2 linked regions of the Homo sapiens genome follow. Each later gene encodes a partner of the first gene's protein in a complex. Each region holds a gene or a part of one and is shown in the gene's direction. Other genes may lie near its edges.

Region 1 (15,548 bases):
CTCCTGACCCAGCCTAGGGATGGGGAGTCAGGGAGGACTTTTGAACCAAGCCATGGAGGATAAAAGGAGAGAAGTGTACCAAATGAGAGAGGCAGAGCATCTCTTTTTTTTTTTTTTTTGAGGCAGAGTCTTGCTCTGTTGCCCAGGCTGGAGTGCCATGGCACGATCCTGGCTCTCACTGCAACTCCTGCCTCAGCCTCTTGAGTAGCTGAGATTACAGGCACCTGCCACCATGCCTGGCTAATTTTTGTATTTTTAGTAGAGACGCGTTTCACCATGTTGACCAGGCTGGTCTCAAACTCGTGAGCTCAAGTGGTCCACCCTCCTTGGCCCCCGCAAACTGCTGGGATTACAGGCACGAGCCACCGTGCCCAGCCAAGAGAGGGAGAGCATGTCAAGCTGAGGGCACAGAAGTGTGTGCAAAGGCAGAAGACGACATGGGACACTTGGGCTGGGCATGGTTCAGAGCAGGAGGCAGTTGGAGTTCAGAGACTGGCAGGGTTAGCATTCCTGTGTGAGAACCCGTTCGGCTCCTTCATCAGCCTGTAGCCTTGTGGAGTAGCCCCACCTCCGAGGTGGAGTGGATGCACCTGGTGCCTCCCCCATGGGTGGTCATGAGGCCGTTTAGCAATAGTAGCTTGAGTTGTAGCAGCCAGGTCCTGTGCCAGCTCTTTGCTTATTGGAGGATGTCCATGGGAAGGGCTTACTCCAAAGAGCCTGGCAGGCACAAGGGCTTCAGGAATTGGGTTCTCACTGTGAAGATGTTTGCTGAATCATGGCAATGTGAAGTAGGGAGCAGAAGCAGAAGGAGAGTGGGGAGAACTGATGGACAGGTGAATGGAGGCCAAACCTCAGGAAGGCCTGAGCCTTGGGGCACTTTCCTCTTTTTTTCAGCCCCCTCCTGTGTCATGTCCTCACTATCTACCAGGACCTGTGCCTTGTAGGATCTCATTGTAGCCTCCTAACATCCCTTTTGAGTTGATGTTTAAGAGTCTCATTTTATAGAAGAGCAAACTGAGGTTCAGAGACCATGCCCAGAGCATAGCACCCTTGGTAGGGAGAAGCAGAGCCAGGCATTGAAATGAGTGTATCTGCTGCCTAGCCCTCTGCTGTCTTCCCCTCTACTCTCCTGTCTGCATTGATTGGCCCCTCGTTTTATATGGGTATTCCTCCTCCCCACCCCCAATCTCCTTCCAGGTCCAGGAGCTGATCATCAACAAAGACCCCACACTACTGGACAACTTCCTGGATGTGAGTGACTGACAGAAGAGAAAGGGGTGTGGTGTAGGGGAAAGGGGATGTGGATCCTTGTGTAGCCCTGATCCACTTTCTCTCTAACATTGGCAGGAGATCATCGCATTCCAAGCAGACAAGTCAATCGAAGTGCGAAAATTTGTCATCGGCTTCATCGAGGAGGCATGGTATGGGGCGAGGCACGGAGCCCCGGGAGCATTCTCACTGGTGGCAGCCTTCAGCTCGTGGCCTGGCCTGGAGGCCACCACTGAGAGGCCTGCCCTCTGCTTCCCAGACCCTTTCTCTCTCTCATACACACTGATTCCCCAGCAAATACTTAATAAGATGGAAACCCTGGGGTCATCTGTGATTCCTCTGCTTCTTCCACACTTCACATCTACATTATCACTAAGGACTGTGGGCTCCACTTTGAGAATATCTGTAGCATCTGACCGTTTGTCAATCACTTCCTCTGCCACTATGCAGGCCCAAGCCACCCTTTCCTCCTACCTGATGACTTCAGTGGTCTCTCTCTGGCTCCCTTCTTTTTCTTTTTAGTTAAATTGAAATTCATATAACAAAATTAGCTTTTTTTTTTAATCTTTTGTTTGTTTGTTTGTTTTGAGACGGAGTCTCGCTCAACTGTTGTCCAGGCTTGAGTGCAGTGGCGCAATCTCGGCTCACTGCAACCTCCGACTTCCGGGTTCAAGCTATTCTCCTGCCTCAGCCTCCCAAGTAGCTGGGATTACAGGCATGCGCCACCACATCCGGCTTATTTTTGTATTTTTAGTAGAGAAGGGGTTTTGCAATGTTGGCCAGGCTGGTCTCAAACTCCTGACCTCAGGTGATCTGCCCGCCTTGGCCTCCCAAAGTGTTGGGATTACAGGTGTGAGTCACTGTGCCTGGCCTTTTTTTTTTTTTTGAGACTGAGTTTTGCTCTGTTGTCCAGGCTGGAGTACAGTGGCGCAATCTTGGCTCATTACAACCTCCACCTCCCAGGCTCAAGAGATTCTTGTGCCTCAGCCTCCTTGAATAGCTGGGATTACAGGTGCGTGCCACCATGCCTGGCTAATTTTTGTATTTTTAGTAGAGATGGGGTTTCTGCCATGTTGGCCAGGCCAGTCTTGAACTCCTGACCTCAAGTGATTGGCCCACCTTGGCCTCCCAAAGTGCGGGGATTACAGGCATGAGCCACGACGCCCAGCAAAAATCAGCTATTTTAAAGTGAACAAGTGAGTGGCATTTAGCACGTTCACAATCTCGTTCCAGGGCATTTCATCCCCCAAAGAGGAATCACCGCACTCATTTCCCGCTTCCACTCTTGCACTCAGCAGCCAGAGTGACGCTGTTAAATGTAAATCAGTCTTGGCACACCCCTGCTCTCAGACCCCAGCTGGCTCATCAGCTTACTTAGGTGGAAACCCAAACTCTCACTTCGGCTTCATCTCACTTCTGATCCTCTCTGTCTCCCCTGCTCCTCAGAAGTCACAGTTGGATTTCGCAGCCTGTCTGCTTGCTGTTCCTGCTAGGGGCCCTCGTCCCCAGGTTGCCACCTGGCTCTCCCCTCCCTTCCCTCAGGTCTCTTCCTCAGAAATTCCTTCCTGCCCGCTCCCATGCAGCCCCATGTCTCAGGCACCCCACCTTCACTGTTCTTTACAGTGTTCCTCACTCATTGAAATAACCTTGATTCTTCCCGCAAAATATCAGCTCTGTGAGGACGGGGCTTGACTTTTTCTGTCTTGCTGGCCACTTTGTCCCCAGTACCTGCCTGGAGCAGTGTTGTCACCTAGTAGGGGCTGACTACGTATTTGTTGCACACGTGAATGAGTTGAACATAACAGTCACCACATGGAACACGTACTGTGCCCTGCGCTGTGTCAGGTCCTTTCCCGTGTTATCTCCGTAATTATGGCAGCCTCGATGGATACTGTGGTTATCCTCTTTTTACAGAAAGGGAAACAGGCTCAGAATGGTCAAGTGACTTGTTCAAGCTGGTCACTTGCTCATTTGTTTATTAAAGCTTTACTGGATGCTTTGTGACTGGGAGGAAGTAGACTAGCTACTGTGTATTAAATATTTGTTTGTAAGGCACTGTATTAAATGCTTGAGCAGCTTCATTATTCGTAATACTATGGATCAGTTGTTTGACCCTTTAACTGAAGAGAAAACAGTCTCAGAGAGGTGAAGTGAATTTTCTTAAGGTCACACAGCCAGAATGTGGCAAGGCTGGGATTTTATTTATTTATTATTTTTTTGAGATGGAATCTCACTCTGTCGGCCAGACTGGGGTGCAGTGGTGCAATCTCGGCTGACTACAACCTCTGCCTCCTGAGTCAAGTGATTGTCCTCCCTCAGCCCCCCCGAGTATCTGGGATTACAGGTGCCTGCCACCACACCCAGCTAATTTTGTTTTCTGTTGTTGTTTTTTTTTGTTTTTGTTTTTGTTTTTGTTTTGAGATGGAGTTTCGCTCTTGTTGCCCAGGCTGGAGTGCAATGGTGCGATCTCGGCTAACTGCAACCTCCACCACACAGGTTCAAGTGATTCTCCTGCCTCAGCCTCCCAAGTAGCTGGAGTTACAGGTGCCCGCCACCATGCCCGGCCAATTTTGTATTTTTAGTAGAGATGGGGTTTCACCACGTTGGTCAAGCTGGTCTCAAACTCCTGACCTCAGGTGACCCACCTGCCTCAGCCTCCCAAAGTGCTGGGATTACAGGCGTGAGCCACTGCGCCTGGCCAAGGCTGGGATTTTAACTCATGTCTGCAATGCCAGAACCCAAATATCCTATCTCCCCATTTACTGGGAGAATTTGTGGTAAATTTTCTGAATTTGTAAAAAGTCCATTCAGCAAATACATACCATGTGACTGCTGTCGTACCAGGCATCCATGTTAGGCTGTAGTATAGCAGTGAGCAAAAACGTATTATTCCTGCCTTCATGTAGCTGACAGCTAAGTTTCATATTTTTTGACTGATTTAATTAATATTTCAGATTGTAATGTATGCTGTGAAAATTCTGTGCTGAGCTCCTATTTATTCATTGAACATTTGTTGGAGGCCCTTCATTTTTTTCTTCAATGAAAATGACCCTGCTGGGGTTATTGCCAAGCTAGGAAAGGGTCCCTACTTTTTGAGCCCTCAGACTGAGGCAAGCAAAACTAGTGATTACAGAAAACAAAGTGCTTTAAAGTAGCAATGGCTGGTGTTTACCGAATGCTTTTTGGTGTTTACTGAATGCTTTCTGCATGTCAGGCACTCTTCTAAGCACTTTACAAGTATTGTTGCAATTTTCCCAAAAAATTGCATAAACAATTGGATAGATACTATTATTCTAAATGAGGTGAAGTCGCTTGTCCAAATTCACACAGTTGTCTGCCCCTACTGTCCCTTATGTGAACAGCAGGGCCCTGAGAGAGCAAAGGAGTTGGTGTTACAGGACCAGTCTAGATAGAGGGTTCAGGGGCGGCTCAGTCTGGAGGCACCAAGCACTGTTCCCAGCTTCTGGATGTGCCATTCCGGTCCCCTGAGACAGGTCCCTGATTTCCCTTCCCTCCTGGACCTCAGGCTCCTCCTACTTGCTCTAAGACCACACCTTGACCTCGCCCCTTTTTTCTCCATCCCTCAGCAAGCGAGACATTGAGTTGCTGCTGAAACTCATTGCAAACCTCAACATGCTCTTGAGGGACGAGAATGTGAACGTGGTGAAGAAGGCTATCCTCACCATGACCCAGCTCTACAAGGTGGCCCTGCAGGTGAGAGCGCCCTCCCCACCCAGGGCCATCCTGCCTGATATGTCTCGTTGACAAACTAATATGTTGGGGTTCAAAACCAGCATCCGAGCATACTCTTTATGGGCAAGATGTGCCACTGGTCTGTGGGAACAGATAACATGGAGAGCTAACGTTGTCTCCTAGGTCAGGAAGTTGCACTTAACCTTCATTCCTTCCATTGACCATCCGTTTATTCACTCAACAGACATTCCCTGAGTATGTCCTCTGTGCTTAGCCCTGGGCTAGGTGATGCTGGGGACACAGCAGTGACCAAGACAGCTTACTGCCTTCACAGTGCTCATAACCCAAGGAGGGAGGTAGACCTTAATTAATGAATCACATAAATATTGATTATGGAGTGTGATAGGAAAAGAACACTCTATGGTGTGATGTACATTAGCATTAATAAAACGAATGAATCCATTTAATCACCACCACCTTGTGAAGTCAGCACTGTTAGTCCTTTACCCTGAAGATGTGTGCCTTCATCACACTGAGTGGTCACTCTCTGCATCCCCATGAGGGCAGGGCGAGGCCTGGCCACTACTCAGTCCTGTCTCCAGCATCACCGAGCACTGGGCTGGGGCAGAGTTGGAACTCAGTAACTGTTAACCAAATGAATGTATTCATCATTCATGGTTCTCTGGGTATTGGCAGAGGGTGTTGGTGATTGATGCGTTGTCTTCACCTCTTTGTGTGTCTCTTCCATTCCTTCCTGGCCTGCTGGCAGTGGATGGTAAAGTCACGGGTCATTAGCGAGCTACAGGAGGCCTGCTGGGACATGGTATCTGCCATGGCGGGGGACATCATCCTGCTATTGGACTCTGACAATGACGGCATCCGCACCCACGCCATCAAGTTTGTGGAGGGCCTCATTGTCACCCTGTCACCCCGCATGGCTGACTCAGAGATACCCCGACGCCAGGAGCATGATATCAGCCTGGACCGCATCCCTCGTGACCACCCCTACATCCAGTACAGTGAGTACTGCCTTCAGCTGCCACCCCTGACAGCCCTGCACCAGTTTCCTCTCCTTCACGCCCCTCCCTCTCTCCCCCTTGTCTTTTTTGGTTTTAAATTTCTGGAACAGTGTGTGCAGTAGTTAAGATCCCTGGTGCTAGGTTCAGATCCCAGCTGCACTGCTTACTCATCATGAACTTGGGCAAGTTACCTGTCTCTGTACTTCATTTTCTTTTTTGTAAATTGGAGACGATAACATAGTACCACTCTCACAGGTTTGTAGTGAAGTTCCATGAGTGTGAGCCAGTCGATGCTAGCTAGTTTTATGGTTTTCTTTTTTTTTTTTTTGAGATGGAGTCTTCCTCTGTCGCCCAGGCTGGAGTGCAATGGCACAATCTCAGCTCACTGCAACCTCCGCCTTCCGGGTTCAAGAGATTCTTCTGCCTCAGCCTCCAAAGTAGCTGGGGCTACAGGCTCCCGCCACCATACCTGGCCAATTTTTTTAAAAATTATTTTTAGTAGAAGCAGGGTTTCACCATATTGGCCAAGCTGGTATCGAACTCCTGACCTTGTGATCCGCCCGCCTTGGCCTCCCAAAGTGCTGGGATTACGGGCTTGAGCCACCGCGCCGGGCAGTTTTACAGTTTTCTTAACTGCAAATTATAAAAGTAGGACATAGGCCAGGTGTGGTGGCTCATGCTTATAGTCCCAGCATTTTGAGAGGCCAAGGCAGGCAGATCACTTGGGGTCAGGAGTTCGAGACCACCCTGGCCAACATGGTGAAACCCCTTATCTACTGAAAATACAAAAATTAGCCGGGCATGGTGGCGGGCACCTGTAATCCCAGCTACTTGGGAGGCTGAGGCACGAGAATCGCTTGAACCCAGGAGGCAGAGGTTGCAGTGAGCTGAGACTGTGCCACTGCACTCCAGCCTGGGTGACAGAATGAGACTGTCTCAAAAAAAAAAAAAGTACTATATATACACTTGGTGTCAAGCAATATGGGTGAATCAAAAGGAATAATGTCCCCTCCCTCAGTCCTGCTTTCCAGAGATAAACACTGTTAAGAGTATTATGTTTCCTTTCAGATCTTTCCTGTGCACATGTAGGTATTTGTATGTGTATATGCATAGTGTCTGCATTTGTTTGCTTTTCTGTTTGCAAAAATGAGGCCATGCTTTGTGTTTTCATCTCAGAGACATTATAGTAGCTTGTGTCTGACACACAGCCTATTTTCCCTTGTCTCTGAGCCTGATTCCTCATTGGTAAATTGGGGATCGTTATTATGGCATCTAATTTAGGATGTAGGTATGAGCATTTGGTGTATTAATATGGCTGGAATAGTAAACATTCCATAAATATTAACTATTCTTATGTATTGTTTGACAGCCTTTTTGACTTAATAGTATCAGTGACGTCCTTCCCTGTGAGAATCATATAGTTGCTATACCATATTCCATAGTATAGTTACATTACATTCTATTAAGCAATGCTCTGTTGATGGTCATTTAGATTTTTAATTCACTTTTATTTTTTGAGACGGAGTCTCGCTCTTTCACCCAGGCTGGAGTGCAGTAGCGCTATCTCGGCTCACTGCATGCTCCGCCTCCCGTGTTCACGCCATTCTCCTGCCTCAGCCTCCCGAGTAGCTGGGACCACAGGTGCCCGCCACCACGCCCGGCTAATTTTTTGTATTTTTAGTAGAGACAGGGTTTCACTGTGTTAGCCAGGATGGTCTTGATCTCCTGACCTCGTGATCTGCCCACCTCGGCCTCCCAAAGTGCTGGGATTACAGGCGTGAGCCACCGCGCCCGGCCTAATTCACTATTTTAAATAATGTGGCGTTCAAGTCAAAACTACAATGAAATGTCTCACCCCAGTTAAAGTGACTTTTATCAAAAAGACAACAAATGCTGGCGAGGATGTGGAGAAAGGGAAACACTTGTACACTGTTGGTGAGAATGTCACTTACTACAGCCTAAAAATTGTTTGGAGTTTTGAGGTTCCTCAAAAAATTAAAAATTGAGCTACCATATGATTCAGCAATCCCACTGCTGGATATGTAACCGAAATAAAGGAAATCACTGTATCAAAAAGATAACCCGCACTTCCATATTCATTGCAGCACTAGTCAGAATAGCCAAGACTTCGGAGCAAACTAAGTATTCATCAACAGAGTAATAGATAAAGAAAATGTGGTACTCATACACAATTGAATACTATTCAGCCATAAAAAAGAAGGAGATCCTGTCATTTGCAACAACATGGATGGAAGTGGAAGTCATTAAGTGAAATAAGCCAGGCACCGAAAGACAACTTTGCATGTTCTCACTTATTTGTGAGAGCTAGAAATGAAAACAATTGAACTCATGGAGACAGACGGTAGAATGATGGTTACCAGAGGCTGAAAAGGGTAATGGGCGGTTGGGGAGGAAGTGGGAATGGTTAATGGGTACAAAAAAATAGTTAGAACAAATAAGATCTAGTATTTGATAGCCAAGCATGGTGGCATGTGCCTGTGGTCTCAGCAGCTCAGGAGGCTGAGTTGAGAGGATCACCTGAGTCTGGGTGGTGGAGGTTGCAGTGAGCCGAGATCACGCCACTGCTTTCCACTCTGGGTGACAGAGTGAGACCCCATCTCAGGGAAAAAAAAAAAGATCCAGTATTTGATAGCACAGCAGGGTAACTATACTAAAAAATAATCATACATTTTAAAATAATTGAAATAGTATAATTGGATTGTGTGTAACAAAACGGATAAATGCTTGTGATGGAGACCCCATTTACCCTGATGGTGATAATTATGCATTGCATGCCTGTATCAAAATCTCATGTACCCCATAATTATTTACACCTACTATATACCCATTAAAATTTTTTAAGTTAAAAACATATATATGGCATTCGTTATGTTTCTGTATAGGAAAGGTCTGGAAAGATATCCACCAAAGTTTTAAGCATTAATTTTGGGGACTGTATTGAGGGGAGTGGTGTCACAAGGGACTTTGAGTTGTGTGTATATACACATGTATTCTAGTCTTTCACTATTGCAAGCCCATGCTTTGAACATCTTTATAACTAAATTTTTTTTTTTTTTAATATGGAGTCCAACTCTGTCACCCAGGCTGGAGTGCAGTGGCGCGATCTCGGCTCACTGCAACCTCTGCCTCCTGGGTTCAAGCGATTCTCCTGCCTCAGCCTCCCAAGTAGCTGGGATTACAGGCACAGGCCTTCACACCTGGGCTAATTTCTTGTATTTTTAGTAGAGACGGGGTTTTACCATGTTGGCCAGGCTGGTCTTGAACTCCTGACCTCAAGTGATCTGCCTGCCTTGGCCTCCCAAAGTGCTGGGATTACAGGCATGAGCCACTGCGTCTAGCCCCTTATAACTAAATTTTTATACTCATTAATAGTCTCATAGAACTAATCAACCACCACATTTTCTGTTTTTCCCGCCATTCATAGACATCTAGGTACCAGGATCTGTCCTTCCTTTTAGTCCCAAAAGCTGCTGTCTCCAGAGGCCTGGGAAAACGGATCCCACTGACTGGTTCTCCTCTCTGTCTCTTAGACGTGCTATGGGAAGAGGGCAAGGCAGCCTTGGAGCAGCTGCTTAAGTTCATGGTGCACCCTGCCATCTCCTCCATCAACCTGACCACAGCGCTGGGCTCCCTTGCCAATATCGCCCGCCAGAGACCCATGTTCATGTCTGAGGTGATCCAGGCCTATGAAACTCTGCATGGTAGGTCATTGTCCTCCCCCCTCCCCCTGCCTTCTCTTCACTGGCCAGTCTGCTCTTTCTTTTTTTTTTTTTTTTTTTTTTTTTTTTGAGACAGAGTCTCGCTCTGTCACCAGGCTGGAGTGCAGTGGTGCAATCTTGGCTCACTGCAACCTCTGCCTCCCCAGTTCAAGTGATTCTCCTGCCTCAGCCTCCCGAGTAGCTGGGATTACAGGACACACCACCACACCCAGCTAATTTGTTTACTTTTAGTAGAGACGGGGTTTCACCGTGTTGGCCAGGATGATCTCTATCTCTTGACCTTGTGATTCGCCTGCCTCGGCCTCCTAAAGTGCTGGGATTACAGGTGTGAGCCACTGCACCCGGCCTCAGCCTGCTCATTCTTAAAGAAATGTAGCTCCGTGGTGGACCCCGAGCGCTAGTCATCCATCTGGCAGGCCTGAGATTCTCTACATTAGACAGGAATCTTTTGGCATGTGACAGAAACTTGATTCAGGACTGGCTTTAATATTGAGGTATGTGGGGGTGAAATGACATGATGTCTGTGAAATACTTTCAAATATTCCAGTCCTCTCCCCCCACCAAAAGGGAGGATAGATGTTCCAAGATTAGCGAAATGTTGATGGGTACACAGAGACTCATACCATTTTCTCTGTTTTGTGAAACGAAAACCGAGAAGTCTGGGGTTGGGGTATGAATGCGTACAGGTCGTGGATCTGCATTTCTCCATCTCTCAGCTCTTTGTTTCTCCATTTTAGTTTCACTCTCTGGCCCTTTCCTTAGGGTAGCAAAGATGGCCCCCCATAGTTCATGGCTCCCATTCCGTTCACTTAGCAACACCATGGGAAAGAGAGTGTCTCCTTCCCAACCATTCCAGCAGAAGTCCAAGGGCTGACGGTCATTGTTTCTGATTGGCTGAGCAGAGATTATGAGCCAGTCTCTGAGCCAATTACAGTGGCCAAGGGAATGTGGTATTCTCACTGGCCCCAGGTCTCATGCCCACTCGGAAGGAGACTGGAGAAGGGGGGTCTCCCTTAACGGAGAGTGGGTTGTGTTGTTGGCTGAGGAAGGGGCAGTGGATGCTAGGCAGGCAGAATTACAGGCATCCTTTTTCACTGTGGAACAGGGGAGGCTCACTTATCAGGGTGACCATTAGAAAGTCATCCTGGCGTCAGGGAGACTAGCAGTGAGCTGTTGCAGCAGTTCAGTTGGGGGTTTCTGGAGGCAAAAGTGGTGATTATAACCCTCCCCAAGCGAAGCATATGTGAATTTCCAGACCAGAGATGGAGGAGGACGAAATTGTATGTATTTACTAAAAGAGAGGGTGAGTTTTTCTCTTTAAGATTGACTGATACTGATGGAGACCCCCAGGGTTTGAAGCATCAGCTTGTAAGGCGGAAAGCCACACGTTAGATCTGAGGGTGAAGGAACTTTTCTAGTAGATGCCTGCAAGACCACTGCCCAAGTTTGGGGTTGAGAATTAAGACTGGCAGCATGCCATGAGATCTTCCACAAGACACAGCTCCTGCCACTTTCCTCACAGCCAACCTGCCCCCGACGCTGGCCAAATCGCAGGTGAGCAGTGTGCGTAAGAATCTGAAGCTGCACCTGTTGAGTGTGCTGAAGCACCCGGCTTCCTTGGAGTTCCAGGCCCAGATCACCACCCTGCTGGTGGACCTGGGCACACCTCAGGCCGAGATCGCCCGCAACATGCCGAGCAGCAAGGACACCCGCAAGCGGCCCCGCGATGACTCGGACTCCACACTCAAGAAGATGAAGCTGGGTGAGAGGGGCTGGTGGGGTGGGGCAGGCAGACCATGCTGAAATGTTTCATTATTTACCTTAAACTATGCTGAATTTGTATTTACTAAGATTATATTATAGATTATGTTATGTGGGCCAGGCACAGTGGCTCACACCTGTATTCCCAGCACTTTGGGAAGCTGAGGCGGGCAGATCACTTGAGGCCGGGGTTCAAGACCAACCTAGGCAACATGGCAAAACCCTGTCTCTAATTTTAAAAAATTATAAAATAATTATAAAAATAAATTACAGTATTTAATATGATATATAAATTACAATAGAATTATCAAAATATACGTTTAATAAATTATGCATTATTTAAATTTTACAGAAAGGAATAAAATGAAAATAGTATCCCTCTTATCCCTCTCCCAAGAAGTAACCACTCCCCAGGTGTGAACACTTCTTTATGTTTTCCTCCAGAAGTGCTTTATGTAGAGTGTGGAGCTCTTCTTTCATTCCTTTGTTTTAGTTATCAGATAATTTTCTTTCTGAAGTAATTTTCTAGTGGTTGTATTATTTATCAATAGTGTCAACTATGGCTTTTCTTAACTTTAAGATTTTTTTCTTAAATCACACTTTTTTTCTAGAGCATTTACGAAAGATTTATTTTTTCATTTTAAAAAATAAGGAATTAGGCTGGGCGCAGTGGCTCACGCCTGTAATCCCAGCACTTTGGGAGGCCAAGGCATGTGAATCACCTGAGGTTAGGAGTTTGACACCAGCCTGGCCAACATGGAAAAACCCCGTCTCTACTAATAATACAAAAATTAGCTGGGTGTAGTGGTGCATGCCTGTAATCCCAGATACTCTGGAGGCTGAGGCAGGAGAATCACTTGAACCCAGGAGGCAGAAGTTGCAGTAAGCCGAGATCATGCCATTGCACTCCAGTCTGGGTGACAAGAGTGAAACTCTGTCTCAAAAAAAAAAAAGGTGGGGGGGGAATTGCCAGGCACAGTGGCTCATGCCTGTAATCCCAGCATTTTGGAAGGCCAAGTTGAGGGGATCACCTGAGGTCAGGAGTTCGAAATTAGCCTGGCTAACATGGTGAAACCCTGTCTCTACTAAAAATACAAAAATTAGCCAGGCGTGGTGGTGCACACCTGTAGTTGCTGCTACTTGGGAGGCTGAGGCAGAAGAATTGCTTGAACTGGGGGCAGTGGTTGCAGTGAGCCAAGATTGCACCATTGCACTCCATCCTGGGTGACAGAGCAAGACTCCGTCTCAAAAAAAAAAAAGGAATTTATCTAAGGAGTGAGGTAGGGATCTTACTATGTTTTTTCATAATTAAGTATACTAAGCAGAGTATTCTGTACCTTGTTTTCATTTAGTTTCATTTACTTTCATCTTGGAGTTCTTTATAGAAATCTACCTCATCCTTTTTTTTTTGAGACAGTCTTGCTCTGTTGCCCAGATTGGAGTGCAGTGGTGTAATCTGGGCTCACTGCAGCCTCTGTCTCCCGGGTTCAAGCAATTCTCATACCTCTGCTTCCTGAGTAACTGGAATTACAGGCGAATGCCACCACACCGGGCTAATTTTTGTATTTGTTTGTTTTTTTTTTTTTAAAGATGGAGTTTCACTCTTGTTGCCCAGGCTGGAGTGCAGTGGTGGGATCTTGGCTCACTACAAGCTCTGCCTCCCAGATTCAGGCAATTCTCCTGCCTCAGCCTCCCAAGTAGCTGGGATTACAGGCATGTGCCACCATGCCCAGCTAATTTTGTCTTTTTAGTAGAGACGGGGCTTCACCATGTTGGTCAGGCTGGTCTTGAACTCCTGACCTCAAGTGATCTGCCTGCCTTCGCCTCCTAAAGTGTTGAGATTACAGGCGTGAGCCACTGCACCTGGCCAGGGTTTGTATATTTAAAGTTATATTTTACCCACCAAATTTGTCTTTTTTTTTTTTTTTTTTTTTTTTTGAGACAGTCTCGCTCTGTCACCCAGGCTGGAGTACAGTGGCCTGATCTTGGCTCACTGCAACCTCCGCCTCCCAGGTTTAAGAGATTCTCCCTCCTCAGCCTCCCGAGTAGCTGGGGCTACTGGTGCGCGCCATCATATCTGACCAATTTTTTTGCATTTTTAGTAGAGCCAGGGTTTCACCATGTTGGCCAGGCTGGTCTCAAACTCCTGACCTCAGGTAATCCACCCGCCTCAGGTGATCCCCTGGTTGCCTCAGTACATGGGATCAGGAGGCACATGGTGTCCCATTGTTGGAGATATTAACTTTTGAACGCTTGGTTAACACAGTTTCAACCAGCTTTCTCTAGTGTCAAGTGCCATTTTTATCTTTGTCAGTAATAAGCTGGGGGAGATATTTGAAACTATGTAAAATACATGTTTCTCTTTAAACGTTCACCCAGTGGTTTTTTTGTGTTTTTTTGTTTTGTTTTGTTTTGTTTTGAGACAGAGTCTCGCTCTGTTGCCCAGGCTGGAGTGCAGTGGTGCAATCTTGGCTCACTGCAAGCTCCGCCTCCTGGGTTCACACCATTCTCCTGCCTCAGCCTCCCGAGTAGCTGGGACTACAGGTGCCCGCCATCTGCCCGGCTAATTTTTTGTATTTTTTTTAGTAGAGACGGGGTTTCACCGTGTTAGCCAGTATGGTCTCGATCTCCTGACCTCATGATCCCAAAGTGCTGGGATTACAGGTGTGAGCCACTGCGCCCAGCCTCACCCAGTGGTTTTAACATCCAGTGATGATTGTTGCCTGAGTCTATTATTCTATACTGGCTCCAAAGAGATTTTCCTTCTACATTTATCAGTTGACATTCTGCTGTAAGGAAGAACTTTCTCTTCTTCTTCCCACTTACTATCAGGAATTTGTTTTGAGCATTTCACTTACTTACTAGCATGACAAGATGTTCTAGACTCCTCTTGTACTGTCCTTGCCCCAGCCCTGGAATCAGTCTTTCTTTTTAAGGAACCCTGGTTTCCTTTAAGTGGGGAATAGTTTCAGAAATCAAGGTCTGAGCCCAGGTGTGCCCTTAGGTACCGAGTGTACATTCTTGATAGCCATTACCAAAGTGCCTTCTAAAAAACTGCACCAGGCTGGGCGTGGTGGCTCATGCCTGTAATCCTAGCACTTTGGGAGGCTGAGACAGGTGGATCACCTGAGGTCAGAAATTTGAGACCAGCCTGGCCAACATGGTGAAACCCCATCTCTACTAAAAATACAAAAAAATTAGCTGGGCCTGGTGGCGCATGCCTATAATCCCAGTTACTTGGGAGGCTGAGGCAGGAGAATCACTTGAACCTGGGAGGCGGAGGTTACAATGAGCCGAAATCATGCCATTGTACTGCAGCCTCGGTGACGAGCAAGACTGTCTCAAAAAATAGTAATAATAATAATCTCTTCTTAGAGCTTATGATAAGCTGCAGGGGTGTGGCTTACTCCCATTTCCCAGATCAGGAGATCTGAGGTTCAGAACGAGTCAGGTAGTTGCCCAGGGTCATAAAGTGGTTTGGCACCAGAGGCAGAGCTGCAGCCTGGATCTTCATCCGCTGTTTGCTCCTGTTTGCTGAGGCTGACTAGAGGCAGGGACCACCCGGGCACCCCGGAAGGATGGAGGGCCTGCAGCTCTCTCTATAGCCAGCATCTTGTTCTTTTCCCTCATCCCAGAGCCCAACCTGGGGGAGGACGATGAGGACAAAGACTTGGAGCCAGGCCCGTCGGGGACCTCGAAGGCCTCAGCGCAGATCTCCGGCCAGTCAGACACGGACATCACAGCTGAGTTCCTGCAGCCTCTGCTGACGCCTGATAATGTGGCTAATCTGGTGAGGATGGGTGGGGAGCGTTTTCCCCCTGGGCAGGAAGGAAGGATCTCCTCGGTCTTTCACCTGCCTCCACTTCACACCATCCACCTCCTCCAGAGTACCCTCCTAATTAATAAAGAAAAGGGGTTTAATTGGCTTACAGTTCTGCAGGCTGTATAGGAAGCGTGGTGCTGGCATCTGCTTAGCTTCTGGGGAAACCTCAGGAAGCTTCCAATCATAGTGAAAGGTGAAGGGGGAGCAGGCATCTCGTGTGGCAGAGCAGGAGCAGGAGAAAGG
Region 2 (15,548 bases), on another chromosome or scaffold:
CTCACTCTGTTGCCCAGGCTGGAGTGCAATGGCACGATCTTGGCTCACTGCAACCTCCGACCCTGGGTTCAAGCGATTTTCCTGCCTCAGCCTCCCGAGTAGCTGGGATTTCAGGCATGTGCCACCACGCCTGGCTAATTTTTGTACTTTTAGTAGAGATGGGGTTTCACCATGTTGGCCAGGCTGGTCCTGACCTCATGTGATGAGCCCGCCTTGGCCTCCCAAAGCTCTGGGATTATAGGGGTTGCCACTGCACCTGGCCTGTGTTTTAAATTGCACATTTGTTCATGTCCGTCCTCTGAATTCATTGTCTTTTAGGTTAACTTCTGTGTGTGGCCACTTCCCTGTGGACATTTCCTTGTCTCAGAGTAAAATGTGGTAGACTTCTTTTTTGAGATGGAGTCTCAGTCTGTCACCCCTGCTGGAGTGCAATGGCGTGATCTCGGCTCACTGCAATCTTTGCCTCCCGGGTTCAAGCGATTCTCCTGCCTCAGCATCCTGAGTAGCTGGGATTACAGGTGCGGCGTACCACCACGCCTGGCTAATTTTGGTATTTTTAGTAGAGATGGGGTTTCACCACGTTGGCCAGACATGTCTCAAAACACCTGACCTCCGGTGAACCACCTGTTTTGGCCTTCCAAAGTTTTGAGATTACAGGTGTGAGCCGCTGTGTCCGGCCCCATATATATATATATGCTAATTCAGATGAATAGTATAGTTCCCAAAAAGGAAATGCTGATATGAAGCTTTATTTATTTATTTATTTATTTACTTTTTTGAGACAGAGTCTTGTTCTGTCGCCCAGGCTGGAGTGCAGTGGTGCAATCTCGGCTCACTGCAACCTCCGCCTCCCAGGTTCAAACGATTCTCCTGCCTCAGCCTCCTGAGTAGCTGGGATTATAGGCATGCACTGCCACACCCGGCTAATTTTTGTATTTTTAGTAGAGACAGGATTTCACTATGTTGGCCAAGCTGGTCTTGAACTGCTGACCTCAAGTGATTCACCCGCCTCGGCCACCCAAAGTCCTGGGATTACAGGTGTGAGCCACTGCGTCCCGCCCAGCAGCTGTGTTTTAAAATAGTTTTGGGAAGGTATTTGTCAAACAAATGAATGTGTTCCTAAGCCAGACGCCGATTCCCAGAGAAACTCTGATCGTGGGTTTTAGAAAATCATTCATGCCTAAAATGTAAATTACGGCCTTAAGATATTTCAGGTAAGGCCAGAGATACTGGCCTGCTCTTCTCATCTGAGATGACAGAGGTAGAACGGAGCTGACTGGCTGAGGTAGTTGCTGGTGGTCATTTGAGGGTCTGGACAGAATGCAGCTGTGCTGACTGTGCCTTCGTCTTCAAGAGGTAGCCCAGGGTCAGGGCCCACAAGCCTGTGAGTTTTCACCTAGTCTGCAGCAGGTGAGATGCTTTTGCAAAGTAGTTTCACGGTGCCTGCAGTCGCAAGGCCATGGTGGACCCCCCCAGAGCTGGCCTGAGCCTTGTGTGGCTCTGTGTTGAGGCCACGGTTACAGTTGGGTGCCCAGCAGCTCCAGAGATGGCCATGAGACCTTTTCGAGGGGTTCCTGAGTTCTGTTTGTGCAGCCTCTGTGCTTTGCCAAAAAAGCATTCGCTATCAAAATGAAATTTTTTTTTTTTTGAGACAAGAGTTTTGCTCTTTTTGCCCAGGCTGGAGTGCAATGGCGTGGTCTTGGCTCACTGCAAGCTCCACTTCCTGGGTTCAAGCGATTCTCCTGCCTCAGCCCCCGCAAGTAGCTGGGATTACGGGCGCCCCCCACCACGTCCGGCTAATTTTTTGTATTTTTAGTAGACATGGGTTTCACCTTGTTCAAGTGATTCTCCTGCCTCAGCTTCCCAAGTAGCTGGGACTACAGGCACGCCGCCACCACGCCTGGCTAATTCTTTGTATTTTTAATAGAGATGGAGTTTCACCGTGTTAGCCAGGATGGTCTCCATCTCCTGACCTTGTGATCCACCCGCCTTGGCCTCCCAAAGTGCTGGGATTATAGGCGTGAGCCACCGTGCCTGGCCAAACTTTGTGTATTTTTTGTAGAGATGGGGTTTTGCCATGTTGGCCAGGCTGGTCTCAAACTCCTGGCCTCAAGTGATCCACCCGCATTGGCCTCCCATAGTGCTGGGATTACAGGAGTGAGCCACCATGCCCAGCCTCAAAGTGAATTTATTTTTTCGAGACGGTCTCGCTCTGACTTTGATGCTGGAGTTCAGTGGTAACATCATAGCTCCCTGTAGCCTTATGTCCCTGGGCTCAATCCTCCCACCTCAGCCTCCTGAGTAGCTGGGACTCCAGCCATGAGCCACCCCACCTGGCCTGATTTTTTTATTTTTAGTAGAAATGAGGTTTCGCCCTGTTGCCCAGGCTGGTCTTGGATTCCTGAACTCAAGCAGTCTGCCTGCCTTGGCCTCCCAGAGTGCTGGGATTACAGGTGTCAGCCACTGTGCCCGGCCCAGATGTATTTCTTGATACGTTGACATGGAAGTGGTAGCTGGCAAGCTTGTGGCATAGTGTGGTGAGTGGATCCCAGTCCATCCCGGGAGCCCAGAGCATCGTGCTGTGCACAGCCGTGTCGGTGTCACCTGCTCTTCTCACCGTGCCCTTCTGAGTACGGAGCTGCCGTCCACGCTTGTGGCACACTCGGCTGTTCTTGTCACCCACATGCACGACACTCCCTCCAGACATGCCTGCCACAGCCGCCACCTGGCCCCTGCAGCACTGGTTCCTCCTTTCTTGGCCGAGGTGCCACTGCCCAGGCTGTTGGCATCTGGGTCAGAGCCCTGGGCAGTCACTGTGCTGAGCTGCAGCTCTGTCCTCGCTGGAGCGAGGCTCCCAGGAGCTCCACCAGCGCCGCCGAGGCTGTCTCATCCCCGCCATGCACCAGGAGCACAGATACCGGAGCCTCCTGTGTCGGTGCTTTGAGTTTTGCCATGGAAACGGATTGACCCAGCTCTAACCTGACCTTTGAGACCTCTGACCTCCCCTCTGATGTGGGGAGTCTTCTGTGTGTGTGGCAGGGGCATGGCTGTCAGGCTCTGCAGTGTTCCTGTGTGTCCCGTCACTCAGTTACCGGGACAATCTGGCCAATAAGGTGATAGCTGGCCCCCCTCGTGGGTGTGTCTGTCAGGGCAGCAGCACTTAGCATGCTCTGGGATGAGTCATACGTGCAGGGAAGATGGTGTGGCCTTCCGGGGAAGGACCAAGGCTTCCACGGAGCATCAACACCTTCAGGAGACTTGACGTCAAGGAAGTCTCTGCTGCCAGCCACGGTTTGCAAAGGAGAGGCTGAGGGCCAGGAGCTGAGGTGGTCGGGGGTACGTGGGGCTGGCGCCGGCAGCAGGGAACCCAGGATGGTGCTGGGCTGCCCAGGGCTGTTGCTTTCGTGGCTCCAGTGCCTGTGGCCAGCGTGCTGCACCTGACATGGCTTTTTCCCAGGCCGTGGTGGGAGAGTGCGGTCCCTGGTGCCAGCCACACTGGCGTGGCAGTGCCTGTGGGTTCCCTTTCAAGTCCCTGGTGACTCATAGCAGGGTAGTGTGGTCCTGGCCTCTCGGTTCTCCTGTGGGATGGGCAGCTGCGCTCATTCTAACTCCCCGGGATGTTCTGGTCCCACTAAGGCCCCTAGGGAGTGAAAAGAGAAAACCTTGGTAAGGAAAACCGAGCTGTGTTTGGGGCGTTTCCTGGTATGTCCTGGCACCTTGGGGCCCTGGGTGGTTTATCCTGAGAGCAACCACATCAAATGGGTGTGGGTGGTCAGCGAGGGCTCGTGGGGACCCCCAAATGGGCCGGATCCGCCTCATGCTCAGCTTCGTGGGGACCCCCGAGTGGTCCGGATCCGCCTCATGCTCAGCTTCGTGGGGACCCCCGAGTGGTCCGGATCCGTCTCGTGCTCAGCTTCGTGGGGGCCCCCGAGTGGTCCGGGTCCGCCTCATGCTCAGCTTCGTGGGGACCCCTTAGTGGTCCGGATCCGCCTCGTGCTCAGCTTCGTGGGGACCCCTTAGTGGTCCGGATCCGCCTCGTGCTCAGCTTCACTTTTTGCTGATGGTGAATCTCACAACCGCTCCACTCCCTGGAGCTGCACTTCCTCCTCGTTTCTCTTTAGAGGCCCTGGCCACTGACACGTGGTCTCCGTGGCCACCTGACGTCCCCCGGACCTGCTGAGTTCTCACCACTGACGTAGTCTGGTGGTCCCCAGGAGGATCCCTGCTTGAGACAGTCCATAGTGACCACTGGCCTCCTCTGGATGAGGTCTTTATCCTCCGTTTTTTTCAGTAGACAGTTCAGCTGCATTGTCAAGAGAATGTCACACTGGTGACATCCTTCAGATGCGGCCTGCTCCAGTTCGTCTGTCAGCCTGGGTGCCTTTTTTTTTTTTTTTTTGAGACGGAGTCTCGCTCTGCCACCCAGGCTGGAGGTGCAGTGGCGTGGTCTCGGCTCACCGCAAGCTCTGCCTCCCGGGTTCACACCATTCTCCTGCCTTGGCCTCCCGAGTAGCTGGGACTACAGGCGCCTGCCACCATGCCCGGCTAATTTTTTTTTTTTTTTTTTTTTTGTATTTTTAGTAGAGACAGGGTTTCACCGTGTTAGCCAGGATGGTCTCGATCTCCTGACCTTATGATCTGCTGGCCTCAGCCTCCCAAAGTGCTGGGATTACAGGCATGAGCCGCTGCGCCTGGCCACGCCCACCTAGTTTTTTGTACTTTTACTAGAGACGGGTTTCACCATGTTAGCAAGGATGATCTCGATTTCCTAACCTCGTGATCTGCCTGCCTCAGCCTTAAAAGGTTGTATTCCGAAGCTGAATTTCCTGGCAAAACAACTACTGTATTATTATTTTTTTAAATAACTAAATAACTGGAATGTCCTGGGGTGGAGATAAGAAGTCCCTTATGTTCTGTCTGCTGAGGGGGCACAGAGGGGCCGAGCCGGAGACCCTTCTCGGCTGGCAGCAGTGCTGAGGGTGAGGCTGCGGTTACAGATCCAGGGTTTCTGTCCAAGTGAAGCCGGACACCATGGGGCCACAGTGCAGAGACCGGCTTTCCTCCAAGTGGAATGTTTCGGGTTTAGTCTGGTTTTGTGTTGCAGAATAATTCACAATTTAAGACCTTTTTCTTGAAAACTTTAAAAAGTAATTTTTTTTTTTTTTTTTTTTTGAGACAGTCTCATTCTGTCGCCCAGGCTGGAGTGCAATGGCGCAATCTCGGCTCACTGCAACCTCCGCCTCGTGGGTTCAATAGTTTCTCCTGCTTCAGCCTCCCAAGTAGCTGGGATTACAGGCATTAGCTACCATTTCTGGCTAATTTTTGTAGTTTTAGTAGAGATGGGGTTTTGCCATATTGGCCAGGCTGGTCTCAAACTCCTGACCTCAAGTGATCCACCCGCCTCGGCCTTCCAACGTGCAGGGATTACAGGAGTGAGGCACCGCGCCCGGCCAGTCCACCATTTTTGTTATCTGAGAGTCTACTAAGCCTCAGTCTGACTAGATAGTGTGTGGTGATGCCATCTTGCCGTCTGTTGGGTTTACTCCTCAGGCTGACTGAAAGTGTTCAGGAAGGAGACACCGTCCTGAGGGCCATGGAGAGCAGTCACTTGCAGGCAGATGGCCCTGCCCTGGAGCTCAGGCTCTGAGCTGGGGGCTCGGGAGGAATCGCCCTCTGGGCGTGGGGCACAGCTCAGGCACCAAGACCCTGGTAGAAGGTGCTGTCAGTCACACCGGATCATTTGTCAGGAGGCCCTAAAATCGAAGGGGGTCCCAGGCAGGTTCCTGCTCCCTGACCTTTGACCTCACTGCCAGCACCTCCCGGTCCCTAAGGAGGAGGCCGCACAGGGACGATCACAGAAACTGTGCAGAGCCACTTGTGTAAGTACCAGTTGTGTGGGGAGTGGTTACCTTTGAGAAAAATGGGACGGCCTAGTTCTCTGGTTTTCCCAGGGCCTCTGGAAGTGACCTCACCTCCCTGTGCAGGTGCCGTTGAGCAAGCAGAGGGCTTCGCGGAGGAAGCTGTGGCCCTGCGTCCACGCGGCCAGCGTGAGGATGGTCTGCCCTGGGGCAGCCGGCGCCCTCCAGAGCATCTGCTGCTGCACACGTGTAGCAGAGTGCCGGGTCGGAACGCTGGTCAGCCTCACACTCGGTTTCCAGGGGAGTTGCTGATACATTAGTGGAAGATGTGGGGGTGCCGGCTTGGGGATCCCCTGAATTGGAAGGTTCCTGATGAGTTTAGGGGCTGACTTTGCTGTGCTCTGTTGCATTATGGACAGGATCTGAGTCACTGGGCTGCCCACACCGGGCCATTGTTGGGAAAGGTAGTGGTGGCCCGGCGTGGCCCTGCCTGCATGGGGTGAGCACAGGCCTCGGGCCCCACCACCCTCCCTCAGGCCTTCGGGGCGATGTGACGTTGGCGTAAGGATGGGCAAAACGTTCAGGATGTCCCTGGACATGGGTGCTGTGTCCCACGTGGATTTGGGGCAGAGATAGGTTGGGCCGTTGGCGTCCGCGAATCGGGACCCTGGTCGAGAAAGGCTGGTGGGCAGGATGGGAGCTCGGGAAGCAGCGCCCAGTGCAGCAGCTGTCAGGCCTCCCCCTCCCTGACCAGTGGGGATGGGCTCTGGGAATCTGAGTGTACAGGTAGCATTTGGTGCAGCTGGCACACACACGTAGGTAGAATTTGATCGCAAGTGAAATTTACTTTGTACTTCTCAATTCATTTTTTGCTGATTGTAGCCCAACAAAAGCAGCTTGGGTGCTGTGATTTGGGGAGAAGCTGCCCAGCGTGCCTGCTCAGGGGCTCACCCTGCTGCTGTTCCCTTTGCAGCCTCTGGGGTCCTCCCCATGCCTGGCAGGCTGGAGAGCTGTGGGCCACACACTGAGTGTCTTTACTGTGGGGCTTATTTTTCTAGTTTTCATTACTGTTTTTTCATTCCTACAAATGGTGCTATTTATACCTCCCGCAGCCTCTGGGAGACGTGTGTGGCTTCTCCATGGCTGGGACTGCAGCCTTGTTTCTGCCTGCAGGGAGCAGTGTGTGTCCAGATCCAGTGTGTGCTTTAGGCTTTGCCTGGGGTGTGGACATTTAACCCACATGGAAGGTCCCCGTGCAGCTGGCCTGGGGAAGCAGCCAGGCCTGCTCTGCCCTGTAGAGGTTGTTGAAGGCCCGGGCAGCCTGGGGGCGCTGGCAGGACAGGAGCTTTCTGGGGGGTGGATGTGTCCACAGCAGAAACCTGGGCCCAACTCAGTCCAGCTTAAGAGGAGGTCCTAGACCACGAGATGCCCCAGGGTCTGTGCACCTCCCAGGCCCAGCAGGGAGGGAGGGGCGTGTGGTGGGTGATGGTTCAGTGGAGTGAGTGGTGGGTGCAGCCTTCCTGCTGATGAACCACCAGGCCTTCCGGCCGGCACCAGTCCATGGTCCCTGGCTCCGGCAGGCTTGTCCTCCCTGGTGTGGTGCTTTGCTAAACCTCCGCCCTCCCTCCATCTTCCTCCCACAACAGAACAGTGTTGAGGCTCTGCCAGGCGAGATCACTGCCTCGTCCTGACTCCCTGGGCCCGGGACCATCCCTGGCAGGCACTTGAGGGGGGCCAGCAGCCTGGGGCCCGGGGCTCAAGGCCCCGTGGGGTCTGGCGAGAGGCAAGGGCCCAGGCACTGATTCTCTGAGTGCTGGCAAAGGGCCTGTGGTGTCCGCTGGTGTCTGGGAATTGCTGGAGGGTCAAAAGCATTAGGCTTAGCCAGGAAAGTCATGGTTAGGGTTAAACTCATGTCTGCTGAAAATTGCCTGAATTAAAATTGAACAAATGTGCCTTAACTCGAAAGAAAAGAGCAGACATTCAGAATAACACGTTGCCAAGAACCCTGAAGGGTGGCCCCTCTGAGGCACCAGCTACCCCCAGCCGGGCTGGCGTGGAGGATGGCGGGGGTTGTCTGCTGGTTGGGTGGCATGTGGACTTGTCTTGGATGCCATGATTTATATACATATATATATATATACTTTTTTTTTTTTTTTTTTGAGACACTCTCGCTCTGTCTCAGGCTGGAGTGTAGTGATGTGATCTCGGCTCATGGCAATCTCCCCTCCCAGGTTCAAGTGATTCTTGTGCCTCTGCCTCCGGAGGAGGCTGGAATCACAGGTGTGCACCACCATGCCTGGCTAATTTTTGTATTTTTAGTAGAGAAGACGGGGTTTTGCCATCTTTTTTTTTTTTTTTTGAGACAGAGTCTCGCTCTTGTCACCCAGGCTGGAGTATAGAGGCGCAATCTCGGCTCACTGCAACCTCCACCTCCTGGGTTCAAGCTATTCTCCTGCCCCAGCCTCCTGAGCAGTGGGATTACAGGCACCCGCCACCATGCCCGGCTAATTTTTTATATTTTTAGTAAAGATGGGGTTTCACCATGTTAGCCAGGATGGTCTCGATCTCCTGACCTTGTGATCCACCCGCCTCGGCCTCCCAAAGTGCTGGGATTACAGGCGTGAGCCACTGCGCCCAGCCATAATTTTTGTACTTTAGTAGAGTCAGGGTTTTGCCATATTGGTCAGGCTGGTCTCGAACTCCTGACCTCAGATAAGCCATCCGCCTCGGCCTCCCAAAGTGGTGGGATTATAGGTGTGAGCCACCATGCCTGGCTGCAGCCTTTTTTTTTCTTTTTCTTTCTTTTTTTTTTTTGAGACAGAGTCTCGCTCTGTCCCCCAGGCTGGAGTGCGGTGGTGCGATCTTGCTCACTGCAAGCTCCGCCTCCGGGTTCACGCCATTCTCCCGCCTCAGCCTCCTGAGTAGCCGGGACTACAGGCGCCTGCCACCACGCCTGGCTAATTTTTTGTGTTTTTAGTAGAGACAGGGTTTCCCTGTGGTAGCCAGGATGGTCTCGATTTCCTGATCTTGTGATCCACCTGCCTCGGCCTCGCAAAGTTCTGGGATTACAGGCGTGAGCCACCGTGCCCGGCCCCAGGCTGGTAATTTTTTATTTTTTGTAGAGGCAGGGTTTCTTTGTTGCTCTGTGTGGACAGAAAGCTTAGTTTGTTTCTCTGATGGTTAGTCCCCCACAGAATTTTAACGTGATTCTGTGTTGATGACACTTTCTGTTGCATGAGACAATATTCCAGATCTCTCTGGGTCCCTCCTGGATTCAAGGCATCCTCCTGCCTCGGCCTCCCGAGTAGCTGGGACCACAGGTATGTGTCACAGCCCAAGGCCTCCAGCACAAGCCTTATTCTCCCATCCCCAGACTCAGGAGGCCATGCAGCCACACACCGGGGGAGGGTTCCAGACGTCACTGTGGGACGGGAGTGACACCAACAGGGCAGGGAGGGCCAGGACATTGGCTCATGCTGGCCGGTGGCCTCTCGGGATTGGCCACACGTGCTCAACCCATGGGAATCTCACTCAAGGGTCTGATGGGCCTGCTCCTCCTGTTTACGCCAAAGTCCAGAAGGCCTCCGGGGGCGAGTGGGAGGACGCAGAGTGGGTGAGCGGAGCTACCTTCCTCACCGCGGTCCATGTGGAAGCCAGGGCAGGGGAGGGGCCTGCCCACTGCACCCACCCCCAGCACCCCACCCCGTGGCTGCCACATCTCACCTCTGGACAATTTTCTTGGCCCATCCTTGGGAGTTTTTTTTTTTTTTTTTTTTTTGAGACAGAGTCTTGCTCCTGTCACCGAGGCCAGAGTGCAGTGGCATGATCTCAGCTCAGTGCAGCCTCCGCCTCCTGGCTTCAAGCAATTCTCCTGCCTCAGCCTCCAGAGTAGCTGGGACTAAGGCGCCTGCCACGACGCCTGGCTAATTTTTGTAATTTGGTATAGATGAGTTTCACCATATTGGCCAGGCTGGTCTCAAACTCCTGACCTTGTGATCCGCCTGTCTCAGCCTCCCAAAGTGCTGGGATTACAGGTGTGAGCCACCGCGCCCAGCTGGGAGTTTATTTCTTAGATGTGTGTTAACTTCAGCTGAGGCTCCTGTGTGCCTCTGTTTCATGGCCTTCGGGTGTTGGCCGCCCTCTACTGAACGTGGTCCCTGAGGCCGCAGGGACTGTGCAAAGCCGGATGTCCAGGCCCTGGGAGTCCAATGGGGGCAGTCGATTCTATGGATGGCACATCCTCTTTGCCTGCCCTGCCCTGGGCCCTCTCTTGGCCCACTTTTCTGGGTACGTTTCAGGCCCTCATGCCCAGTTGGGGCCCTAGCATGGGTCAGGCCCTCCGCCTGGTGTCGCCTTCTTGCCCGGGCTGAGTCTTTGGTTTCTTTCTTTGTGGGTTCAATGTCGAACGCTTTGCGTCAGTGGGACTTCTGCAGGACCTGGGCGGCGCAGGTGTCCGGAAGATGGGACAGGTTTCTGTTCCGATGGCGCCTCTCTCCCCTTCCTCCCGCCCGGCAGTACTTAGGTTCTTCCTTCAGAAAGGATTTCCCCATGACTTGAAGAGCAGGCTCTCGCACGCAGGCCCGAAACCTGCTCAGCCTCCCCGTGGCCCTGAGCCTGTCTATTGAAGGCCCCGCCTCACCCGCCAGCGGCTCCTGTCCTCTCGCCTTGCTCTGAGCCTTTGCCTCGTGGCACTCACTGGCACCGTGGTTTTGCTGCCGGAATTCAGGTGGGATCTTGCGTCCCTGTGAGCTCATGGCTTGGTCTGTGGTCCCTTTGGTCCTCCTCAGGTCCTCACAGCCTCTGGTGGGGCTTGCAGGTCTAGCCCTCTGGGCGGGGCCTCACCTCGCATCTCCTCGCCAGGAGATCCAGAAGGGTGGCTGCTCGCTCATCCTTGTGTAGCTGAGGAGGCTGCTGCTTTGTCCCTGAAGTAGACATTTCTCCTTAACTGAATGATTCTTAATTTATTGCCTCATCTACATAAATAGTTGAGAATGACGTAAAGGAGGAAAGGACTTAGAACTGTCCAGGCCTCAGGGAAGAGCTGGCCTTGAACGTCCATGAGCTCTGCCAGCCAGTGACACCAGTCCCATCCCCAGGAGCCCCCACGGCCTCACCCCCGGCTGTGTCTTGCTCAGGGATGTGCAGGGAGGGTGATCCCTGTGCCCACCATGAAGCTGCCACTGGACCCCTGCACCCTGACCCCGGTTCCTCTCCGTGAGCCGGTCCCTGCACCTGCCCCTCTGCATGTGGCTGCACACAACAAGGTCAGGCCGTCTTGAGCTCTTTTTTTTCTTTTCTTTTTGAGACGGTGTCTTGCTCTTGTTGCCCAGGCTGGAGTGCAGTGTCACGATCTCAGCTCACTGCAAGCTCCGCCTCCCAGGTTCAAGCTTCTCCTGCCTCAGCCTCCCGAGTAGCTGGGATTACAGGTGTGAGCCACCGCGCCCGGCCTTTTTTTTTTTTTTTTTTTTTTTTGTTGTTGTTGTTGTTTTCCAGAAGGAGTTTTACTCTGTCGCCCAGGCCGAAGTGCCGTGGTGTGATCTCGGCTCACTGCAACCTCCGCCGCCCGGGTTGAAGCAACTCTCGTGCCTCAGCCTCCTGAGTAGCTGTAGCTGAGATTACAGGTGTGTGCCGCCCCACCTGGCTAACTTTTGTATTTTTAGTAGAGACGGGGTTTCACCATCTTGGCCAGGCTGGTCTCAAACACCTGACCTCAGGTGATCCACCCGCCTCGGCCTCTCGATGTGCTGGGATGACAGGTGTGAGTCGCCACGCCCGGCCTCCTAGAATGCTGGGATGACAGGCGTGAGCCGCCGCACCCGGCCTCGAGCTCTTCTTTCCGCAGACTTTGATTCTCAGCGGCTGAAGGACTAAGTTCCCCAGAGATGGACCCGGGTGTCATAGCTGCTTCCAGGGGCCTCGGGGACACAGGCGGGACTCCAATGTGCAGGAGGAGACACACGTCAGGGGTGGGTGTGTGACTTCCACGCTGCTGACAGTGACCCAAGGATGCAGCTCAGGGTCAGATGCCGTTAGATCAACCACTTCAATGTATTATAAAACTATTATAAAAACTATTTTTGCTACCCAGGAAGGTAGCTGAGTTCACTTAGAATTCCTGTCAGCTAGGCTGTTTATCTGAAAGTGGTTACTTGTCCCTGACCATCTGGAATGGCTCAAATGAGCTCCTGCAGACCACAGAGCTCATCTTTGGGAACCCAGTCTCTCTTTTTGGGGAAGTGAGCCCCTTCCTTGGGAACCCCTGAGGCCAGGCATGGCCACTGTGGATGGTGGGAGGATGCCCCACCCTGAGGACCCCAGAGGCTCCTGTGGCCCCTTCCTGGGACTGCTGGGGCCGGTGTGTGTCAGCGTTCACCCCAAGGCCCCCTTTCAGCTGGGCTGGACGCCAAGTGCCTTCAGGCCTCATCCTGCCCTCCACCATCCCATAGTCAGTGAGGCTGTGGCATCTCCCTCCTCGACTGTCTTGCCCTCTTGGTTTTTGTATCAGCGTTTTCCAGGCTGATTGCTGCTGAACCTTCTGTTTTTTTTTCTTTTTCTTTTTGAGACAGTCTTGCTCTGTTGACCAGGCTGGAGTGCAGTGGCATGATCTTGGCTCACTGCAACCTCAGCCTCCCGATTAGCTGGGATTGCAGGCATGTGCCACTATGTCCGTCTAATTTTTGTATTTTTAGTAGAGACGGGGTTTTACCGTGTTAGCCAGGATGGTCTCGGTCTCCTGACCTCGTGATCCGCCCACCTCGGCCTCCGAAAGTGCTGGGATTACAGGCATAAGCCACTGCGCCCGGCCTGGAGCTTCCTTTCTTTGGGTTTTCCGATGTTCTTGACTCTGTTGTAGCTGAGCTAGACTGGGGACTGGGTTTCCGGGTTTGCTTTGTCTCTGCTGAAGGGCTGAGGTTTCAGAGCCAGCATGCACTGCACAGGGAGCAGAGGGAGGAAGAAGGATCCGACTGCGGAGACACAGTGACTGAGGCCAAGGGCAGCTTGGGCCGGGCCAGCAGTGAGGGGAGAGGTCTGGGTAGAAGGTGTCATGCTGGGCGGGGGCGGGGGGTGTCCTGCGGGCCTTGGGTCTTTTTGCCGAGTTGGGGGACAGCGAGGAGCAAGCACCTGCCATCGCCCACTTTGTTTTCTGTGGGACCTCCTAGGACAGTGAGGCCCCTGCCTCACCAGGGCATGGCCCACTCCGCTGTCCAGGCCTTCGTCCCGGCTGCCTCTGCTGTGGGGCAGGGAAGGGGCTGGGTGTCCAGGACACAGGCGCTTCCAGGCTTCATACACAGATGCCTTTTCTCTGACGTTCCTTAACTCCCATGTGTAGCTATACACAGAATGGGATTTTACATATGCTGGACAGAAATAAGAGAATCAAGCCCCGGCCAGAAAGATTCCAGAACTGCAAAGACCTGTTTGATCTGATCCTCACTTGCGAAGAGAGAGTGTATGACCAGGTGGTGGAAGGTGAGGAGGCGGCTGCGTGCTGGGCTGGGCTCCAGCAGCTCTCACAGGGTCTGGGGATGCCTGCAGGGCCCCACCATGACCAGTACAGCCCGTCTAGAGTGGCGGGGGCCGGGGAGCAGACCTGAGTGTGAAGCACCCTGGAAGGCAGGCAGGGCCGCTGGTCGCTGAACCACCCATGTGCTGGCTGCAGCCTCATGGGCTTCAAGGGGCCTCTTTTCTCCTTGGTGTTTTTTTGTTTTGTTTTTTGAGACAGAGTCGTGCTCTGTCGCCAGGCTGGAGTGCAGTGGTACAATCTAGGCTCACTGCAACCTCTGCCTCCCGGGTTCAAGTGATTCTCCTGCCTCAGCCTCCCGAGTAGCTGGGACTACAGGCGTGTGCCACCACACCCAGCTGATTTTTGTATTTTTAGTAGAGACGGGGTTTCACCATGTTGGCCAGGCTGGTCTTGAACTCCTGTCCTCAAGTGATCCGCCCGCCTCAGCCTCCCAAAGTGCTGGGATCACAGGCGAGAGCCACCGCGCCAGGCCCATTTTTCAAGCGGATGGACCCTGTGTGGAGCTGGCGGTGGAGCAGGGAGGGCTGGTCTTTAGTGACGGGGAAGGGTCGCAATGCCAGTCACGGTTCACCCCAGGACTGGCTGGTGGGTGGGGAGTCCCAGACCAGCTTGTGCTGAGTTGGAGATTTGCTCAGGTTTCCTCGAACCATCAGCCGCCTTCGGTTTGAGGCTCATTCATTGTGCTCCCCAAACTGCAGAGTCCAGAAACCACTGGGGCTGGGCTGGGCCTGCAGCCGGCAGAGCTGGGGACTCAGCCACATTGACTGCCTGTTCCCTGGTTTTGGAGCCTCTGACGTCTGTGTCACCTTGTCCCAATCAGATCTGAATTCCAGAGAACAGGAGACCTGCCAGCCTGTGCACGTGGTCAATGTGGACATCCAGGACAACCACGAGGAGGCCACCCTGGGGGCGTTTCTCATCTGTGAGCTCTGCCAGTGTGTAAGTACCCGGCTGGGCGCCGCGCTGGGCAGAGGTTGTGACAGAGGGGAGTGACCGAGGCCGTGACAGAGGGGAGTGGCCGAGGCCGTGACAGAGGGGGTGGCCGAGGCCGTGACAGAGGGGAGTGGCCGAGGCCGTGACAGGGGAGTGGCCGAGGCCGTGACAGTGGGGAGTGGCCGAGGCCGTGACAGTGGGGAGTGGCCGAGGCCGTGACAGAGGGGAGTGGCCGAGGCCGTGACAGTGGGGAGTGGCCGAGGCCGTGACAGAGGGGAGTGGCCGAGACCTGAGGCCGGCCCTGCTGCTTGGGGCAAGGTCTGCTCAGCTCGCCTGTGTCGGGGGCGCCTGCTGGTAGTTCAGTGAGTCACTCCACAGCTTTGGCACAGGAGGCCCCCCTGCAATGCCCTTTGCTCAGCTGAGAGACGCTGCACAGGGACCTCCCCAACACAGGCTTAGTCCCTCTCCCAGGACACGGCTCCAGGGAACGCCTGGTACCTTGTCTCTTCCCCGTGGCGGACACAGCCCCACCTCAGTGAGCAGAGCATGCAGCTCTCCGGGATGCGGTGCAGTCGGAGGTGTGCCCCACGTGAGCCTGGAGGCTGCCAAGGGCTCTGTGTCCGCCGTCCACCCCTGGACTTGGCCTTCTGCACACCTGCCTTCCCCAGTGGGCCCTGCATGTCTCCCTTGCACAGAGGGGCCGGGGCACCCCAAGGCTTCTGTAGCCACCCTGCTGCGGCGTGGAGGTGCTGGGCTGTGACGAAAGGACCTGCCTGAGGAGAGCCCCACGCACCGTCCCGCCTCTGCCTCTGCCTCTGCCTCTGTGATTTGATGAATGTCTGTGAAAGACAGAAAAACAGAACAGCTTCACCAAGAAAGAAGATGGTGTGTTTGGAAAGCCCGGGAGCCAGGCGGGCGGGCGCTGGGAGAAGCTGCTGTGTGGCCGCAGAGGCTCCTGCGCTCCGCCTGGCCCACCCAGCATGGCTTCTGGTCCCCACGTGCCTCACGGTCCAGTGTGGCTGCTGAAGCGCCAGGGACGGTCTTCATGATCGCCTGGCAGGAGAAAAGGTCATAAGAAAATGTCGTCCCAGAAGTTATTGCACGATTTCTGCTTGGGTCACGTTGGCCAGAGCTGAGTCACAGACAGGCCGCTCCTTGCTTAGAGGCACTGGGTGCTGGCCAAGGCTGGGGACCAGGGGACAGTGGAGATGGCGAGTAACGAGCTGCCGGTG

The links.
Region 2: the proteins of SYMPK (region 1) and SSU72 are in contact, whole or in part, in a crystal structure (PDB 4H3K), measured with the Homo sapiens proteins. Residues at the interface, in NP_004810.2 of Homo sapiens: Val123 (codon at 4,924), Lys127 (codon at 4,936), Leu131 (codon at 4,948), Gln135 (codon at 4,960), Asp175 (codon at 5,828), Asn176 (codon at 5,831), Asp177 (codon at 5,834), Gly178 (codon at 5,837), Thr181 (codon at 5,846), His182 (codon at 5,849), Lys185 (codon at 5,858), Glu188 (codon at 5,867), Pro204 (codon at 5,915), Arg205 (codon at 5,918), Arg206 (codon at 5,921), Gln207 (codon at 5,924), Ser250, Ile251, Thr254, Thr255, Asn262, Ala290, Ser292, Gln293, Ser295, Ser296, Lys299, Asn300, Leu303, His304; in NP_054907.1 of Homo sapiens: Glu113 (codon at 13,301), Tyr116 (codon at 13,310), Asp117 (codon at 13,313), Val120 (codon at 13,322), Asn124 (codon at 14,209), Glu127 (codon at 14,218), Gln128 (codon at 14,221), Glu129 (codon at 14,224), Thr130 (codon at 14,227), Cys131 (codon at 14,230), Gln132 (codon at 14,233), Pro133 (codon at 14,236), His135 (codon at 14,242), Asp167, Glu169, Asn170, Asp173, Gln177, Glu180, Thr186, Phe187, Leu188, His189, Thr190, Val191, Phe193.

What each region holds. Positions count from the first base shown.
Region 1 is NC_000019.10:45,838,185-45,853,732, reverse strand, and holds part of SYMPK (symplekin), read left to right. Parts: intron 1-1,197; coding exon 1,198-1,251; intron 1,252-1,347; coding exon 1,348-1,421; intron 1,422-4,856; coding exon 4,857-4,983; intron 4,984-5,731; coding exon 5,732-5,981; intron 5,982-9,532; coding exon 9,533-9,703; intron 9,704-11,243; coding exon 11,244-11,483; intron 11,484-15,117; coding exon 15,118-15,272; intron 15,273-15,548. UniProt on the Homo sapiens protein: Scaffold protein that functions as a component of a multimolecular complex involved in histone mRNA 3'-end processing. Specific component of the tight junction (TJ) plaque, but might not be an exclusively junctional component. May have a house-keeping rule.
Region 2 is NC_000001.11:1,542,643-1,558,190, reverse strand, and holds part of SSU72 (RNA polymerase II subunit A C-terminal domain phosphatase SSU72), read left to right. Parts: intron 1-13,188; coding exon 13,189-13,328; intron 13,329-14,203; coding exon 14,204-14,322; intron 14,323-15,548. UniProt on the Homo sapiens protein: Protein phosphatase that catalyzes the dephosphorylation of the C-terminal domain of RNA polymerase II. Plays a role in RNA processing and termination. Plays a role in pre-mRNA polyadenylation via its interaction with SYMPK.